Linked DNA regions of Homo sapiens: all the other regions are linked to region 1. The links come from fine-mapping of genetic effects on gene expression. A gene starts in region 1. Each other region holds a variant in brackets. All regions are shown on one strand. Distances are between the middles of the regions.

Region 1 (7,007 bases):
AGCAAGAAATCCTTAGTCATGTTTAAAATGGGCCAGATAATTTAAGAAAATCAGCTGATTTTCTTCCCTTCGGGAATACTACTGAAGTTCTGTCCTAAGGCATACAACAGAAACTCCTATTAGCAACCCTGATGACCTTGGGGTCTCATGGTGTCAAGTCTATAACAATCTGTTGTCCAGATATAAACAATCATGAATAATGGATGTGTACCTACAAAGAGCCACATATTTCACATTTATTTCCATGCTGTGGTAGAATTTTAATAAATGGATTACAGAGTTTATGTAATCTATTTTAAAATCTAAGATCCAAATCAACACTATTAAATAAGCTTCTACTGTGTCTTAAAAAAAGAGACTACTAGAAAGCAACTGCCAATTAAACTTCAGAAACCATTGTTGAATTTATTATTTGAGGAAAATATCACTAATCAAACTCTGTATATTTATGGTAAATACACTTACTTTTTTCCTTTTCTTTTTTTTTTTTTTTTTTGAGACGGAGTCTTGCTCTGTGGCCCAGGCTGGAGTGCAGCAGTGCAATCTCGGCTCACTGCAACCTCCGCCTCCTGGGTTCAAGCGACTTTCCTGCCTTAGCCTCCCGAGGAAGCGTAATTACAGGAGCACGCCATCATGCCCAGCTACTTTTTGTATTTTTAGTAGAGATGGGGTTTCCCCATATTGGTCAGGCTGGTCCAGAACCGCTGACCTCAAGTGATCCGCTCGCCTCAGCCTCCCAAAGTGTTGGGATTACAGGCGTGAGCCACCACACCTGGCCCCAATGAGGTTCCTTAATTTGCACTCTCTCTAACATACTTTCTCAATCTCCCAAAAAATTAGTTAATGGTCTAGAGCCTTGAAATAAAGGAACTTTGGGCCCACAAATTACAGAGTTGAACATAGAACTCCTTCCATCAGCTTTTCAAAAAATATTGAAAACAAGTTTACCCTTTCTAAGCTCAATTTTTTCACCCCTCTTTTCAACTTTCAAGGCAATATGAAACTTCAACTAAACAATCACCTGGCTAAAGTGACTTGTAGGCCAGGCACGGTGGCTTCCACCTGTAATCTCAGCACTTGAGGAGGCAAAAGTGGGAGGACTGCTTGAGCCAGGAGTTCAAGACCCACCTGGGTAACATAGGGAGCCCCCCACCCCCACCCCCACCCCAAGCCATCTCTACCAAAAGATTTTTTAAATTAGCCGGGCATGGTGGCATATGCTTGTAATCCCAGCTATTTGGGAGGCTGAGGAGGGAGGATCCCATGAGCCCAGGAGTTGGAGGTTGCAGTGAGCTATGATCGTGCCACCGCACTCCAGCCTAAGTGACAGAGTGAGAACCTGTCTCAAAAATAAATAAAGTGACTTGTAAAGGTGCCTGATAAATATATATGTATTTTAATTGAATAGTCTCTTCCAAATTTAATCCAAAACCTAATTAAGCAAGTTCTCAGTCAATTAAAAAAGTAACTTTCACCTCAACCAGCTCTGCAAAATTCAGTTAAACCGGAGAGGAAACAGAAGAGACAGCTAGTTTTGATATAGTCTTATTACCCTATAGTAGATTAGTGATTCTGGTGGCAAAAAATGCATGCCTGTTACGCATGTAGGAGAAAGCAATGTTTACAATGGCCTGGACTTTTGTCATAAATTTTCAATCTCTAAATGATCTTTGTATTCTAATTTAACACACTGTGATTCTTCAAAATTATAGTTTTGCAAAGTTGAAGAGTTAAGCAAATGCCAAAGCCACAAATTCAATTGTTACAGTGAATAAGGCAGATTAATATTTAACAGTTCATTTTCTTGCAGGTGAAAAGCAAAGAATTCACAGCAACATACCTGCAAGTCTCACATCTCCAGCCTCAACATCCTTGTAAGTTATATTTGAAAAAAGAAAAGTCTCCAATATCTAAACTCATTTTCCCCAAAAGTCCCACTCTTCAATCTCTATTTGTCTCAAAGTGACCAAATCTATCCCAAATTATTTCCTTGGTTCTTTCTCTCCATAAAAATGGCTTAATTCCAGTGAGTTTCTCTAGTTTTACGTACTACTTATGTATTTTGTTGCTTTCTCTCATCTCCCCTTGGATCATTTTCCTTTAGTTCTCACCACTGCTTTTCTCCATATTTATCTTCAAATATTCAAGTACAATACTTCCCAACATCCACAAGAGACAACACCTTGAAATTAAAGCAAGCAAACCATCCAGAATTTTCCATTCTCCTGTGAATCTACTTCCGGAATATCCACTCAAGTAATCCTTCCCACTAAAGATGAAAGGCGAGCTAAGGAAATACATTAGACAGAGGAAGTAAACACTGAAACAGGGCCATGCCTAGGTATTCTTCGGCCCCAAAGAAAAAAAACTAGACTCTGGGTCCAAAGGTCTTTTTCGTGACTTTTATCCCCACCCAGAGGCCAACACCACGCAGGTCTGAGAGAGGTAACCCACGGCCACCTACCTTCTACACACACCGCACGACCTTGCTCTGAAATAATCTTGCACAAGCAAAATTCTCCACGCCTCTCAGACTCCTACCTAACGTTTCTGTGCTTCAGTTTCTGAGCTCTTCTCACTTTGCAACTGTCCCAGGGAACACTGGGTCTTCGCCTTAATTTACAAGTTTGCACTGAAGGTTTTAAATCAGTCTGATTTCCCCGTGGTGAGTCACACCCCGCAACGTGCACCAAGGGGGAGGGTGTTTAAAATTATCTCCGGCTCCACCCTTAAAACAAATCACTTGGCTGCAAGGCCTTTCCCCCTAACAGAGACTGGTTCAAGGGAGATTCGGACACATCTCCACCTCCAAAGCCAAGTGCCTTCCCGGGATGATCTGCATAACAATTTGCGGGTGCTGGTGGTGGAGAAGCTCCGGGAAGAGAAAACTAGCCGGACGGTATCGAACCGCCCGCAGGCCCGTCGCAGCTCCATTAATGCAACTACCATTACACTAAGGTAACGTGTGATTCACACTCTCCACCTTCTCTCCCCTCTCATTCGCTGGCTCCGGCGCTCGCACCGTCGGAGGGTGGGGTTGCGACGGCCACAGAGGATGGGACACCCGAGGGAAAAAAGCATTATCAAGAGAAATTAACCAGTCCCATACTAAAGACGCCTCTCCCTCTGTCCCTGAAGTTAAGTCTCAGAAGGTGGCTCCAACTCCTCCCCGGAGGCTACGGACCACCGACACACGCCTCCCTCCTGCTCTCAGCGAGACGCGGCGGGAAGCCCTCATCTCTCTCCACGACAGGCACAGGGAAGGGTCCCGGGGTGCAGGAGAGAAGAACCCCACTTTTCCCCGCCCCCTCCCCCCGAGAAACTTCTGGGACTCATTACGCAACTCAAGTAGCAGGTCCCAACAACGGGACAGCTCTCCGCAAAACGCGGGGTGCACAGGCAAACGTCTGACTTGGGGGCTGCGCGTGAGGGAGGAGCATGGGTCTCTTCCCATGTCCCCGTCCCCTGTTTTTCTACGCGCTACCTGCCGCGGGATCGCAAGTAGGGCGGTGAGAGCTCTGAGCCCTAGCCCGTTCTCCCCGAGGGCTCCCACCGGAAAAGTGGGAACGCCAGCGACTTGAGTCAGCGTGCTGGGAAGCCGGCAGAGAGGCGGGGAGAGCCTCGGCTTCCGAGAAGTCCGCGGCGGCGGCGTCGGGGGCCGGGCGGATCGACCCCCAGCCCTGGGTGGCGCAGGGCTGCGCTCACCTTCCAGACCCTTCCGTCCTCTAGTCCCGGGTCGGGCGCCCTCGTCACCTCCGCCCTCCCCTGACCTGTTGCGGTGGGAAAGGGCGCAAGTGCGGACGACGCAGGGGAGCGCCTCCTCCCGGGGCTCGGCTGCGGAACCGCGGAGGCAAAGGTGCAGCTGCGGCCGCAACGCGCGCAGGCGGCGGCCGAGTGCGCAGGGGCCGCGCGCGCCCGTCGCTCGCTAGCTGGCTGGCAAGCTCAGCACGCCGGCTGCCCGGGACGCCCCGAGGCCACGCCCTCCGCGCGAGGCCCCGCCCCCACCCCCACCTCCCGAGCTGCGGTACCGGGTTCCGCCCCGGCCCGCGCCCTCTAGCTGGCGCCACCCAAGCGGCAAGGGACGTCGCGGCCCTCCCGGGATTGGTGGGAGGATCGTGGGGGAGCGGCAGCTCAGGACGGAATACGGCAATGACCGCCCCGGTCGCGAGGGTGACCCTGCCCCGGGCTGCTGTGGGGGCGCAAGAACCCTTTCACTTTACGGCGAGATTAAGCTCAGGGTCAAGTTCTGAGCAAAAAGTGTCAAGGAGCCTTTTTGCAACCTCCTATAATATTGAAACAGATTCTGTGCCCTTTAAAGGAGATAATAACTAACATCTGGGGAGCGCTTTACAATTTAGAAAAGGCCTTTCACACACAGGCCTGTTTCATCTTCACAACAATCTTATAAAACAGATATATTGTTCCCATTTCCCAAATAATGAAACGGAAGCGCCGAAAAGTAAGTATTGTGCTCAATGTCACAGGCTACTAAGTGGCATGGGAAACCAGGTCTCCTGAATCTAGCCTCCGGGTTTCTGCTCTCCACCAGCCCAACCTCAGAAAATTCTAATAGGTGCAGGGGGCTTTGGCAAATAGACCCATGGGAAGAAGGGGAAACTTATGTCTAGTTAAGTCGCTGCCCGATTCCTGCTGTAAACATACCAAGGAAAGCAACAGGCTGTCTTCATTGTGTTGTCGCACCTTCCTTCCTGAAAGGGACGCAGAAAGATTACATCAAATGGCCCAGATGAGATTTCGCCGACAGTATTTTATGGTTTAAAATGGGTGAAATTATTTGGATGAAGAAAAGCGCCTTACTTAAATTTAATATGATGTGTAATGTAAATTGGTATAATGTGTGAAAATAAGCCCCTCCCTGCCTTCTCTGCCTTTTCTCTTTTTAATTTTGTTTGTCTCTACTGCTCTGCTCAACTCTTTTATTGTCCACATAATTGAAAACCTAATTGATGGATATTTGCATTTCCAAATTAAACCTTTGGCTACTTGACTTAATTTCCCATGGATTGTTTTCCAAAATATAACTCTTCGCCCTACTCCATATCCTCCCATCGGGAGATTGGTTTACCTAGACAGCTAAAATAATTAAGGTGTCCCTGATGAAACCTGGTGGTGTATCTATCTAAGATGAAAGTTCTGGTCATCCCTGAGCAGGATGGGACAGGAGTCATCTCTTACAAAGTGTTTGTACACCTTTTAAAGGTTTCTAACAGAGACTGATCTCTATTCTAATCAATAACAAGTATTTTAACGTTTTTGCTATATAATGAATACATTTCATTGTGAAATATATATTAGCATGGTAATATTTTATAATCTGAAAACTTTTACCACTTCTATCTAAAATGTTTTCCTTTTTTGTGTTCTTTTTGTGTCATCCCATAGTATCTCCTATAGGGCTCTTCAAACTGTGGTCAACTTAGTAAATGATGTTGACAGTGGAAGTGTGATCATTTTATTTTCCTGCCTTTGGAATTGAAGATTGTAATTTTGCAAAAATTTTGTTGAAGATGATGTAGCTTTGGTTCAGAGAGTAAGTCATTCCATTTATATCAATATTCTTAAGGCAATGTGCTAGGTGACGAGCCATATTGATGACAAAGACAGAGCTCCTATTTTCATGACATTCCAGTGTGGTGGCAGAAACAAGCAAGTAAATAATTCCAGTACACACTTCTGTTGATTTATTTCGTGAATGGTGACTGGCTATTTAAAAAGACTAAATCAAATTAATTTTCTGATAATGAATAAAAAAGGATAGCCATGCCAGTGAGTTATTATTATTTTTTAAGTTGCCTTTCTCTCTCTTCTGCTGGTCATCTTATATAAATAGTCAATAAGAAGGCTATTTTAAAAAGTGATTACACTATATCTACTTTAAAAAATTTTTTATATCTACTTTTTAAATTTCAGACATAAACAAAAGGAGAGTAATTATGTAATGGAGTTGCAGATATTTAACTTTGTTAGCTACACTTTCCTCCATCATCTTCCTTACAAGAATTCTTAAATTACATTTTTAGCACACTCAATGAAATTCCAGCACTTTCTTAATTTTGACAACCTAATCTCATACATTTCAGATTATGTTTCTAATAAGATGAAGCATGTTTCTGACATCGGTGCTTTTTTTTTTTTTTAACAGAACCCCCCCACCCCCCCAAATAAATCTCCCTTTTAAATATGATGATGGGACTTTTTAGGTGCTTCTTCATATGAGGGCTCCTGGGATGTTACCTGACAATTTTCAGCCATGATTTTACTTAAAATTTAAAAACAAATTAGTTAAACCCCTGGGACTCATAGAAGCTCACAGGATGTATTCTCAGAGCACCTAAACAGCCCATGAGGAGGGAAGACAACATTAAGATAGAGGCAGGTGAGGAATGTGCCCAGCATCACAACATGGACAACTGTTTGGTCAAACTGAAGTACTTCTAAACTCTGCAGTTGTGCAAGATCCAAGCATTTTAAGCCAGCAGTTTAAATTATGTTCCTCCAAATGACTGCATGTATATCTCAAAGGGCATTAACTTATTCTCGCAAAGTATATAAATAAATCTTTTTTTTTTTTTTTTTTGATATGAAGTTTCACTCTTGTTCCCCAGGCTGGAGTACAATGGCACCATCTCAGCTCGCCGCAACCTCCACCTCCTGGGTTCAAGCGATTCTCCTGCCTCAGCCTCCCGAGTAGCTGGGATTACAGGTATGCGCCACCATGCCCTGCTAATTTTGTATTTTTAGTAGAGACGGGTGTTTCTCCATGTTGGTCAGGCTGGTCTCGAACTCCGGACCTCAGGTTATCTGCCCATCTTCGCCTCCTAAAGTGCTGGGATTACAGGCGTGAGCCACCACGCCCGGAATAAATCTTTTTTTTTTTTTTTTTTCTTTTTGAGACAGAGTCTCGCTCTATTGCCCAGGCTGGAGTGCAATGGTGCAATCTCGGCTCACTGCAAGCTCCGTCTCCCGGGTTCACGCCATTCTCCTGC
Region 2 (5,000 bases), 24 kb before region 1:
TTAAAAAACATATATTTTAGACAAATAAAATATAGTCTCCACTCTCATTTATTGAATACTCTGTCCTACTGGAAAATTAAACCTCCATTCTTAAAGGACAATTTCATATCTCGTTTACCAAGTGCTCTGCGGGGGACAGTAAGCCTCTGCCGGATGTAGAAAGATAATCTAAAACGAGAACTGCTACAACTTCTAACCGTTGAGAGGTTGATTTATTAACAGGGCAGCCACCTGACATCTGTGCAATGCTGTAACAGACCACAAAGTGCTCTGAGAGAGCACACATCATCTCACCACGGCGATGAAAAGGGCTCTGAAACGCAAACTGGGGAGATTCTAATTTAGGATGGGAACCACCTCCATTCCTTAATTTTTTTTTTTTTGGGTAACTAATCTTTTCATCTTTTTCCTGCCATATGACTCAGTAGTGACCCCTATTCCCATCACTCAGCCCCCCCTTCCCACACCCCCACTATGCCCCAGTGCAAAGAAATCAGCTTTGTTCCTTCACTGGAAAAGATGCACGTTTCTCTGACTACTGTAGCCATGCTGAAACTATCTCCCAGGAACAACTTTTTATCTCATTCATGTCAAAAAAGAAGAGTCAGCTAGAGGGGATCTGTGGCCCAAAACTCAGAGTTTTAAACCAGAGCTCAGAAAGTATATCCCTGCCACCAGCTTCTACAAAGACAAAAAGGGAACAGGGACTTGAGGGTTCGGTGATGGAAGGAAGCTAGCCACTGATGAGTATCTTCCTTTTCCCTTTTTCATCTGTAAAACATAACCTCATAGGGAGTTACGAGATTGAAAGCATGCCTATCAAATACTTAGCACAGGTCTCGTCTGGTCACTGCGCTTATTAAATATTTTCATGGGTATCTGTACTCATGAAGGCAGGGTTAACTGGTGGTGTCTCCCACATTCTCACCATTCTGATATCAAAGGGGAATGGAAGGCCTTCAATACTCTCATCTGTAGTTGGAAATATTTCATCTGGAGGATAGCTTGTCTCTGTCAACCATCCAGGGATGCTGTGCTCCTTGCCAGCTGTGACCTCTGCTCCTTTCTCAAGTCTTACAACTTGCTTGGAAGATAGGCTCAGAAGGTGATTACTAAACATGTGGAAAGTCAGTAAACACATTAGAATTCTTGGGTGCCCAGTGCCTTACCAGTTCCACTCAGGTTACAAAGGGCAGTCTCTGACCTCCAGTTGTTTAAAATCTGGTAGGGCTTGGACTGACTGCAACAGAGGAGCCAAGTGGAAAAACAGCAAGAGATAAGCTTGGTGGGGAGCTGACTACACAACGAGAGTTTACTGAAGGTAGGCCTTAACTGCAAGCTGAATTTAGGCAGCAATTTGCAATCTTAATCCCATAAAATGTTGTACTATTTTTAGTAGCATTGCTTTCAACACCATAAAGTATGCACATACTTTAGTTTTGGTTAAACGTTTTGATCATACTCAAAGCCTTGTAACTACACAAATATAAAGAAATACTATCTTTAAACTCTAAAACCACTGCCTTTGGACTTCTTTTACAAAGAGCTAAGAATTTACTTAAAAACGGACCTTTTTCTACACTGCACAGGAATAAAGGAGTTTTCCTCCTGATGTCGGGTGGGAAAAGGAGTAAAGGAGCCCTCAGTCTCCTGAGAGGAGCAGCACTCAGAAATTCTGCCCTGTTCCACTTTACTGTAACAACGCAGCGGAACCCACTGCACTTCAATTCTCAACACATGCAGGATACCTGCTGGGCCGTCCTAGGCACAGCATTTTTCCAGTAGTGTTTGAGATTCAGGGTAAATCCTGGGTAACAGCGGCAGCTCCCTTGTAACCTTAAAGAAAGATCTTTTCCAGTGTGAACAGTCAAAATTCAAACGAAGAGCAGCCCCATGCTCACCACTAGGAAACCCTGTTTTCCTTTAATTAAAAAAAAATGTAGAGGTCATCCCTCAGCTTTGTTTACAAGTAATGAGTCCAGCAGCCCCCATTTATCACCCCTGGAGATTCTTTTACACTTTGATGTGAAAAGAGTCAGGGCCCATTGTGATTTCAACTACTCCAACAGCAGTCCTTTCATTTGCAAACGAGGCCCTGGCCCCCAGTTAGAACCAACTGTCAGAAAAAAATTCATTGCCTTTCCTTCCAATTATTTATCAGAGACAGAGAAGAGAAGCTGGCTTTAAGACATCGCTCAAGAAAAGGTTCCCAGCACACCCCTAATGCATTCCTTACCTTCCCTGGTTCTTTCAGCCCAGAATGCCCCTTTCCCAAATTCCACAGCTCATGAAAGCCAACCTCTGCTTTCAAACCATCCCATCTGGAATGACTTTCTCCTTTCAGCTTTACACAAAACCCAAGTGGCCTAACGTTACTTATCGTTTAGGTGTCCCTCCCTTAGGGCAACTCTGCAATTTTCTGCAGAGCAAGGAAAGTACCAGCACTCTGACTTCCCTAACAGACACTCAACCATCCCAACAATGAGTTCAAAAGGCACCCATTTTTTCCCCCATCTCTACCAGTCTCTCACATTGGG[A/G]AAAAAAAAAAAAAAAGAGTATTAAGGAACTTTAAAAGGGAGTGAGGCTTTAAAGATTTATTCAACTATTTAAGAAGTGTGAAGTAGCAGACAAAAAGAGGAAGGGACCCAACACAATAAAGAGGTTTCTTTTTTTAATGTAAACTTTTAAAATTAAAAATAACACACATTTTTTAAAGTGTAGAGCTCACATATAAATTTTCACAAAATGATATACTCTTGTAACCAACACCCAGATCAAAACAGAATACCGGCACTCCTGGGCAATTTAACTATTTTAAGCAAAAAGAGTTATCTTGACTCTAACCAAGCTTTTAGTGCTAACTTCCATTCTTCAGGAAATACATGGGATAGGCTGACAGTTTCTCAATCTCAGCACTATTGACATTAGAAACCAGGAAATTATTTGTGGTGGGGGCTGTTCTGTGCATTGTAGATGTTTAATAACATCCCTGGCCTCTACTCACTAGATTGTGATGACTAAAAATCTCTCTAGACATTGTCAAATGTCCCCTGGAAGAGAGGGAGACAAAATTGTCCTCCGTTGAGAACTACTGCTATATCGAAACAAGTTAAACGCATTAATAGGAAACAAACAAATCCAAGAAGTAGGACATACATGCAACTGTTTCCTTAACTAGTAAATGCTCCCACCCCACAAGTAAATAGAGTAAATGCTGCTCTGGATTAAGACTCAAGAAACAAAACCTAATGCAATATGTGAACTTTGGTTTCCTTGGATCAAGATGAAGACAATTTTATTATTTATTATTTATTTTATTTTATTTTTTTGAGAGAGTCTTACTCTGTCTCCCAGGCTGGAGTGCAGTGGCACAATCTCGGCTCACTGCAACCTCTGCCTCCTGGGTTGAAGTGGTTCGCCTGCCTCAGCCTCCCGAGTAGCTGGGACTACAGGCACGTACCACCACACCCGGCTAATTTTTTATTTTCAGTAGAGACGGGGTTTCACCATGTAGGTCAGGCTGGTCTCGAACTCCTGACCCTCAGGTGATTTACCCACCGTGGCCTCCCAAAATGCTGGAATTACAGGCATGAGCCACCGCACCTGGCTAAAAACAATTTTAAAAGACATTTTAAAACAATCTAGAAAGTTTGGGGCCGGGCACGGTGACTCACGCCTGTAATCCCAGCACTTTGGGAGGCTGAGTTGGGCAGATCACTTGAGGTCAGGAGTTTGAGACCAGCCTAACATGGTGAAACCCCGTTTCTACTAAAAATACAAAAAATTAGCCAGGCATGGTGATGTGCACCTGTAATCTCAGCTACTCGGGAGGCTGAGGCAGAAGAATTGCTTGAACCTGAGAGGTGGAAGTTGCAGTGAGCCCAGATGGCACCACTGCACTCCAGCTTGGGCAACAAGAGTGAAACTCCGTTTCAAAAAAAAAAAAAAAAAAAGGAAAAAAAAAGAAAAAGTTCAGAGATAGACTAGGTATTAGACGAATCCAAGATGTTAATTTTATTAGGTGTGAGACGGGTATGTATTTAAGTAGGGAAATGTCCATATATTTTTAGAGATGCACATAAAGTATGAAGAAGTGAAATGGAATTTGCTTTAAAATAGTTCAGCAAAGAAAAAGAGGAAAAAGGATAGTTGTTTGTTTGTTTTTTTAAGTATGGCAAAATCAGGCTAGGCGCAGTGGCTCAGGGCTGGGCATGGTGGCTCACGCCTGTAATCCCAGCACTTTGGGAGGCTGAGGTGGGAGGATCACCTGAGGTCAGGAGTTTGAGACCAGCCTGGCCAACATGGTGAAACCCTGTCTCTATTAAAAATAAAAAATTAGCCAGGTGTGGTGGCATGCACCTGTAGTCCCAGATACTTGGGAGGCTGGGGCAGGAGAATTGCTTGAACCCAAGAGGCAGAGGTTGCAGTGAGCGGAGATCACAACACTGCACTCCAGCCTGGGCAACAGAGTGAGATTCCATCTCAAGAAAAAAGAAAAAAAAATTTCCAACCAAAAATGAACTAGTTGCCCCAGCATTCCCCACAGTCTGATTCACATACTCAGCTATGAAGGTCTCTCCAGGCTTTTGCTTTCTCCAGTAAAATTAGGCTACTGATATGAATACCTTACAGAGCATAGAAAACATGACTCAGATTTTGAAATAATGGTTCCCCAGCTTCTGCAAAACAGGAGAAACTGGAACTGAAATTCTCTTCTTCCTAAAGTAGGCTGACTAGTATGGCTTCAGAAGAAAAGTACTGTTATAATGGAAGGCCTCCAGAAAGAAAAATGGTTCTTTCCCACATCAAGACAGTATAAAATTAGTATCCCTACAAAGACAATGTTATCCCCAGCAATTCAACTCAGTGTTCATCTTATCTACCACCTGGACCAAGTTTAGCACCTAAAATGATATAATGCCAAATGCCTGGACTAGTGTCCACTATACTGAAGGCACAAAATAATTATTAATATTAATTCATTCTCCTCCAACTCTCAG
Region 3 (5,000 bases), 150 kb before region 1:
TAATTGTTCCTCTAATACACCAACTTGATACCACCTCGAGGATTTTCCACCAGTTCTTCCCTCTGCCTAGCCTTCTGTTTACTGGCCTGTTGCATTATTCACAGCACCATCAACACCCAACACTATGTATTTCTCTTCCCTACTCTGATCTCCATGAAAGCAAGCACTCTGTCTTATTCACTACAACATCCTAGTGCTGTGGAGGCTTAACAAGTATTTGTTGAATAAACAAATGAACATATAAATAGTGCTACCACTCATTGTACTAGCATCATGGAAATGCTGCACTGAGGTAATGCTTGCTGGTACCACATTAATCCCCCAAGATACTGTGGAGGCCAGGCTTGCCTGTAAGTAGAAAATCTGAGGTGTCTCCATGCACCCACCAAGGGCATGTTGCCCTTTCTAGACCCTAGTGCATGACCATTCCCTGAAAACTAACAGTGTATGTCTGCTATCTTCTTACTCCATTAGCCTGCTGGAGTTATGGGCCACCACTTCCCCTTCATTACAACACTTCCCCCTTAAATACTGACCCCAGAGAACCAAACATTATCTTCTATGATTGATTTTCTCTGTTAGGAAACTACTTACTGCCTCTATCACCCATCAGAAAGATTTGTGTTTGGATTCCTGGCAATCTTAATAAATTGCTGGTACAAGATGAGAACGGGAACCGGGAGGCAAAGGAAAGTAGCATCTGGGTCAGCGTCAAGAGTAAGAGCTGGAATGGACCCTGGAGATCATCCGCTAGCCCAGGGCCTTCATTTTACCAATGAGGAAACCAAAGCCCAGCAGCGACCTATAACTTAACTGAGGTCACAGACAGAAGAGAAGGGGCAGACTCCAATATGAAAAGGCCTATGGCCTGTTCAGTCCTGGACGTCCTTCTGTTTGCTTTCCCAAGTTATGATTTCCAAATCATAAATGGGCATGATTTATACATTAACCACTCTCTCTCAAGCATTTCGAGGTAAGCAAGGATTCACTAACGTGATCCTGGGTGGGAAGGGAAGGAGGACGGATGGGTTCCTTCAATTAAAGATGCTTGTCTGGTGCTGTAATACCACCATTCCTAAATAAAGGATGTGACATGTCTTATTTCAACACACACCGAAACCTAAGAGGAGCATCTGACATATGCAGAAGACAACAAACCTGCACTGTTGCATTTACTTCTGAAATAATGATAGAACAAATAACGCACAATTTCAGAGGAAATGCCAAGGCCACAGTATATAATTAAATTCCTTAGTATGTTTACGACTTACCATACCAACAAATTTCAGAAACAGAAGAGGAAAAGGATGATAAAAAATGTAATCGAGGTAACTTATTTAATCTTACATGCTGGTTGACAAAAATTCCTCACTGTTAGCAGTTCAAAGTATGTTTCTCAGCCAGGTACGGTGGCTCACGCCTGTAATCCCAACACTTTGAGGGGCTGAGGCGGGTGGATCACTTGAGGTCAGGCATTTGAGACCAGCCTGGCCAAGATGGTGAAACACCGTCTCTACTAAAAATACAAAAATTAGCAGGGCGTACTGGCGCACACCTGTAATCCCGGCTACTTGGGTGGCTGAGGCACAAGAATCGCTTGAACCCAGGAGGTGGAGATTGCAGTGGCCAAGGTCACGCCCAGCCTGAGCGACAGAGAGAGACTCTGTCTCAAAAAAAAAAAAAAAGGTATGTTTCTCTAGAGGTTCTTTCTTTCTCAGAAAACCCTAACTACAAAATGGGACAAAAGACTGTGAAACAAAAACAAGCTGTTTTCCAAACAACTGGTTAGATACTACTACTGTCAAAAATTTCACAAGTGAGGAAATAACCAATATACTTAATTACTGGTTTTAGTACCACCATCACTTAATACTTTAAAATGAAAAGTTAAAAAACTAAAATTGAGTAAATGTATTTTGAGAAAATATGAGCAATAGTGATTCAAATTAACAGTCACATTTATTATATACATCTCTCTACTAATTAAAAAAAAAAAAGAAGAAAAAAGTCAGAAACCCTACAGTAAAAGACAAGAATATCATTAAAATTGACCTAGAAGCAAATTAAAGGCCACAGAAGAGGGATAAAAAATACACAAAACCCTCAGTTTTTACAATTACTGTACCTGAGCATTAAAATTAAGCTCTGGGTTTCCTGGAAATTAAAGGCAAAATGGGAAACATTATATATAATTCTTCTCTGATAAAAAGAAAGAATGCCAGTTCATGAGGAAAGTTAACATTTTTCCCCTGGAATTAAGTTCTAGAAGGAATCTGTCATCCTTGTACAAGAAAAATTGAACAAGTGGGTAATGTATTCAATGACATATTTGTGGAAGCACAAATGTTCATGGCATAGTTTCAATAAACAAAAGCAAAAAGTAATCCTTCAAGGTAAGTCTAAAGATGACCATCTACTTCCCACTATTTTTCTTTCATTCCTTTAAAATTTCATCGTCTCACTGAAGAAAAGGCTGTATGTATGAGGCCATAGGTATTAGGTATCACCTACAGAACGCCAAGAGGTATAAATCAAGCACTGTTTAACCACTGGTGCCTCCCACACATCAATACAGGAAGTTTCCTCTCTGGGAAGTGAGCAACTCTCCTGGGCCTTTATGGACAACCAGAAAAACTTAACGAGAGATGCCATAAAAATCTGGTCCAAATGTCTTGCAGTTTGTAGACTTCAATTTAATTAATAAAATCTGGTAGAGAATTCAATTACGTTCCAAGACTACTTCTGTTACTATTCTGGTTTATTTTTGCCTTTGGAGATGAGTGGGGGAGAAATGGTTAAAAGGGGTTTGGGAACAACAACTGTTCTTTATTTTTTATTTATTTATTTATTTATTTATTTATTTATTTATTTATTTATTTATTTATT[G/TATTG]GAGACATAGTTTCAACTCTGTTGCCCAGGCTGGAGTGCAGTGGCGTGATCTCAGCTCACAGCAGCCTCCACCTCTCGGGTTCAATCGAGTTCAGGAGGCCTGACTCAGCCTCCTGAGTAGCTGGGACTACAGGCATGTGCCACCACTCCTGGCTAATTTTTTGTATTTTTCTTAGTAGATACGGGGTTTTGCTATGTTGTCCAGGCTGGTCGTGAACTCCGGAGCTCAAGCAATCCGCCCACCTTGGCCTCCCAAAGTGCTAGGATTACAGGCATGAGCCACCGCACCCAGCCAATGGCAACTGTTCTTTAAAGTGAAAGTAAATGGATGTACGCCTACCTACTTAAATATTTCTTCAAATGAGAAAGATTAACAGTGAACTCACCTTCAGAATCTCTTCAACACAATGGACTTCATTGGAGTAGGTCTGCTGAAAGTGAAAAGCAAAAAATAAAAGGTTAGCAAACCAGAGTCAAGAGTGATGGTACTGGTGGATGACTGTATTAATGCAGCAATACTCATCTCAAGGCTTACCTTCTACTAGCTAAGTATTAAGAACTTTACATTTGAAGCCTGGGCAACATGGCAAAACCCCATTTCTACCAAAAGCAATATAAAAATTAGCCATGCATGGTGGTGCATGCCTGTGATCCCAGCTACTCAGGAGGTAGAGGCAGGAGGATCACATGAGCCAGGGAGGTGGAGGCTGCAGTGAGCCAAGATCATGCCACTGCACTCTGGCTGTATATATATAAAACAACAACAACTTTACATTTGGATGAAATAAGACCAGAGAGATTAATCTAACTGAATCTTGTGGGGAAACACAGTAATGATGGAGACAATGGCAGACTAACTGTTGACCCTCAGGTTAAAAGTTTCTAAAATTTCTTTATTAAAGAAAATTAGTATATTAGTAAACCTAGGGAATAAGAGATGTACAAAATAAGATTAGAATAGGTGCCACAGTCAGCTACCTCATAGCAACAGCTAACCAATAAGCCACATTAAATGAAGACAAAGATGATGATCATCTGAACACATTAGTGGGTCGAAAGTAAGGAGCTAAGTCCAATCAAGGATAACTCTTCATTATTTTTATATGCTAGCCTGCCAAAATTCATTTTAAAGTTAAAAATATCTCACTTAAAGTCAGCATTTCACTTTATACATACATGCATATATACATACACAGACGCACACAAAGTTTTTTTCAGAGAAAGACTGTAAGGGTAGAGGAGATTAATTATTGTCTTAGAGGAAAGATCTACTATTTCTACCTCTTCCTAATACCCAGCTAAACAAATAATGATTATTGCTGCTGCTGGTATCACCACCAGACAGTGCCTAGGGAATGACATTTTACAGTCTACATATTTTTAAGAGCAAAGAAAGTAGGCAAAGTTAAATTAAAATCAATTATTTTTTCTGAACTAGAGACATGGAACATATGGTTTTCAATGGAATAGCAACTTGCTCTGTGTCAATTCATGAGCCAGGCATCATGGGCACAGTACAGCAAGTACTATACAACATATGACTTTCCCATTACTGCCACTGCTATGCATAAAACTCTGCTCTTTTTGGTCCATTTAATACCTACCTCGCAGCTAGAGAACAGATGGCAAGGGGTTCTTTCCTGTTCTTGGTTCTAATTTATGTGTAATTTAATATAGAACTGGTTGCTAATTTGCAATCTAGGGTTTATTAATCTACCATTTCCCTCATTCCAATTCACTCCATGGATGAAGAAAAAGGAAATAGAGCATACAAACATTCACACCGTCCTGTAATTGAATCTAATGTCAAAATTCAGATGTAGGCCAGGTGTGCTGGCTCACACCTGTAATCCCAGCACTTTGGGAGGCCGAGGCGGGCAGATTGCCTGAGCCCAGGAGTCTGAGAGCAGCCTGGGCATCATGGCAAAACCCCATCTCTACCAAAAATACAAAAATTAGCCAGTCTCGTAACCCAGTTTCAAAACAGACAAAAATTTAAAAATAAAATTTAAAAATTAAAAAAAAATTCAGATGCAGTCTGTTTTTAAAACATGTAAATTTCCTGGAAAGAGTCTTGAAGTCAGGTATAACCAAAGAGAATCAAGGGTGTCCCT

Alleles and levels. Alleles are on the strand shown, and positions count from the first base shown. SD is a standard deviation of normalised expression in the study named. Not every link is listed here.
For the expression in Th17 cells of the gene that starts at base 3,935 in region 1, allele G in region 3 goes with a higher level than allele TATTG (large effect, 1.6 SD a copy in Schmiedel 2018).

What was found. PIP is the estimated chance that this variant, and not a neighbour inherited with it, causes the effect.
Region 2: its variant is fine-mapped to the expression of AFF1 in whole blood (INTERVAL, PIP above 0.99).
Region 3: its variant is fine-mapped to the expression of AFF1 in Th17 cells (Schmiedel 2018, PIP 0.95).

What each region holds. Positions count from the first base shown.
Region 1 is chr4:86,931,939-86,938,945 of GRCh38, reverse strand. AFF1 (ALF transcription elongation factor 1) reads right to left here and starts at 3,935. Exons shown (of 21, transcript NM_001166693.3): 1 at 3,706-3,935. AFF1-AS1 (AFF1 antisense RNA 1) reads left to right here and starts at 4,096. Exons shown (of 3, transcript NR_038841.1): 1 at 4,096-4,459; 2 at 5,404-5,551. It also overlaps a transcript of C4orf36 not described here. RefSeq lists enhancers at 2,501-2,620, 2,476-3,017, 3,018-3,559 and silencers at 2,872-3,010, 3,481-4,230.
Region 2 is chr4:86,957,045-86,962,044 of GRCh38, reverse strand. All of the region lies in intron 2 of AFF1 (ALF transcription elongation factor 1), which reads right to left. Among named protein-coding and RNA genes, the nearest start is that of AFF1, 25 kb to the right of the region's middle. RefSeq lists a silencer at 1,014-1,308 and enhancers at 1,481-2,152, 2,153-2,825, 3,535-4,118, 4,646-4,695. The variant A/G (reference allele first, on the strand shown) is at 2,538.
Region 3 is chr4:87,082,437-87,087,436 of GRCh38, reverse strand. AFF1 (ALF transcription elongation factor 1) reads right to left here. Exons shown (of 21, transcript NM_001166693.3): 5 at 3,273-3,317. Among named protein-coding and RNA genes, the nearest start is that of KLHL8, 140 kb to the left of the region's middle. The variant G/TATTG (reference allele first, on the strand shown) is at 2,887.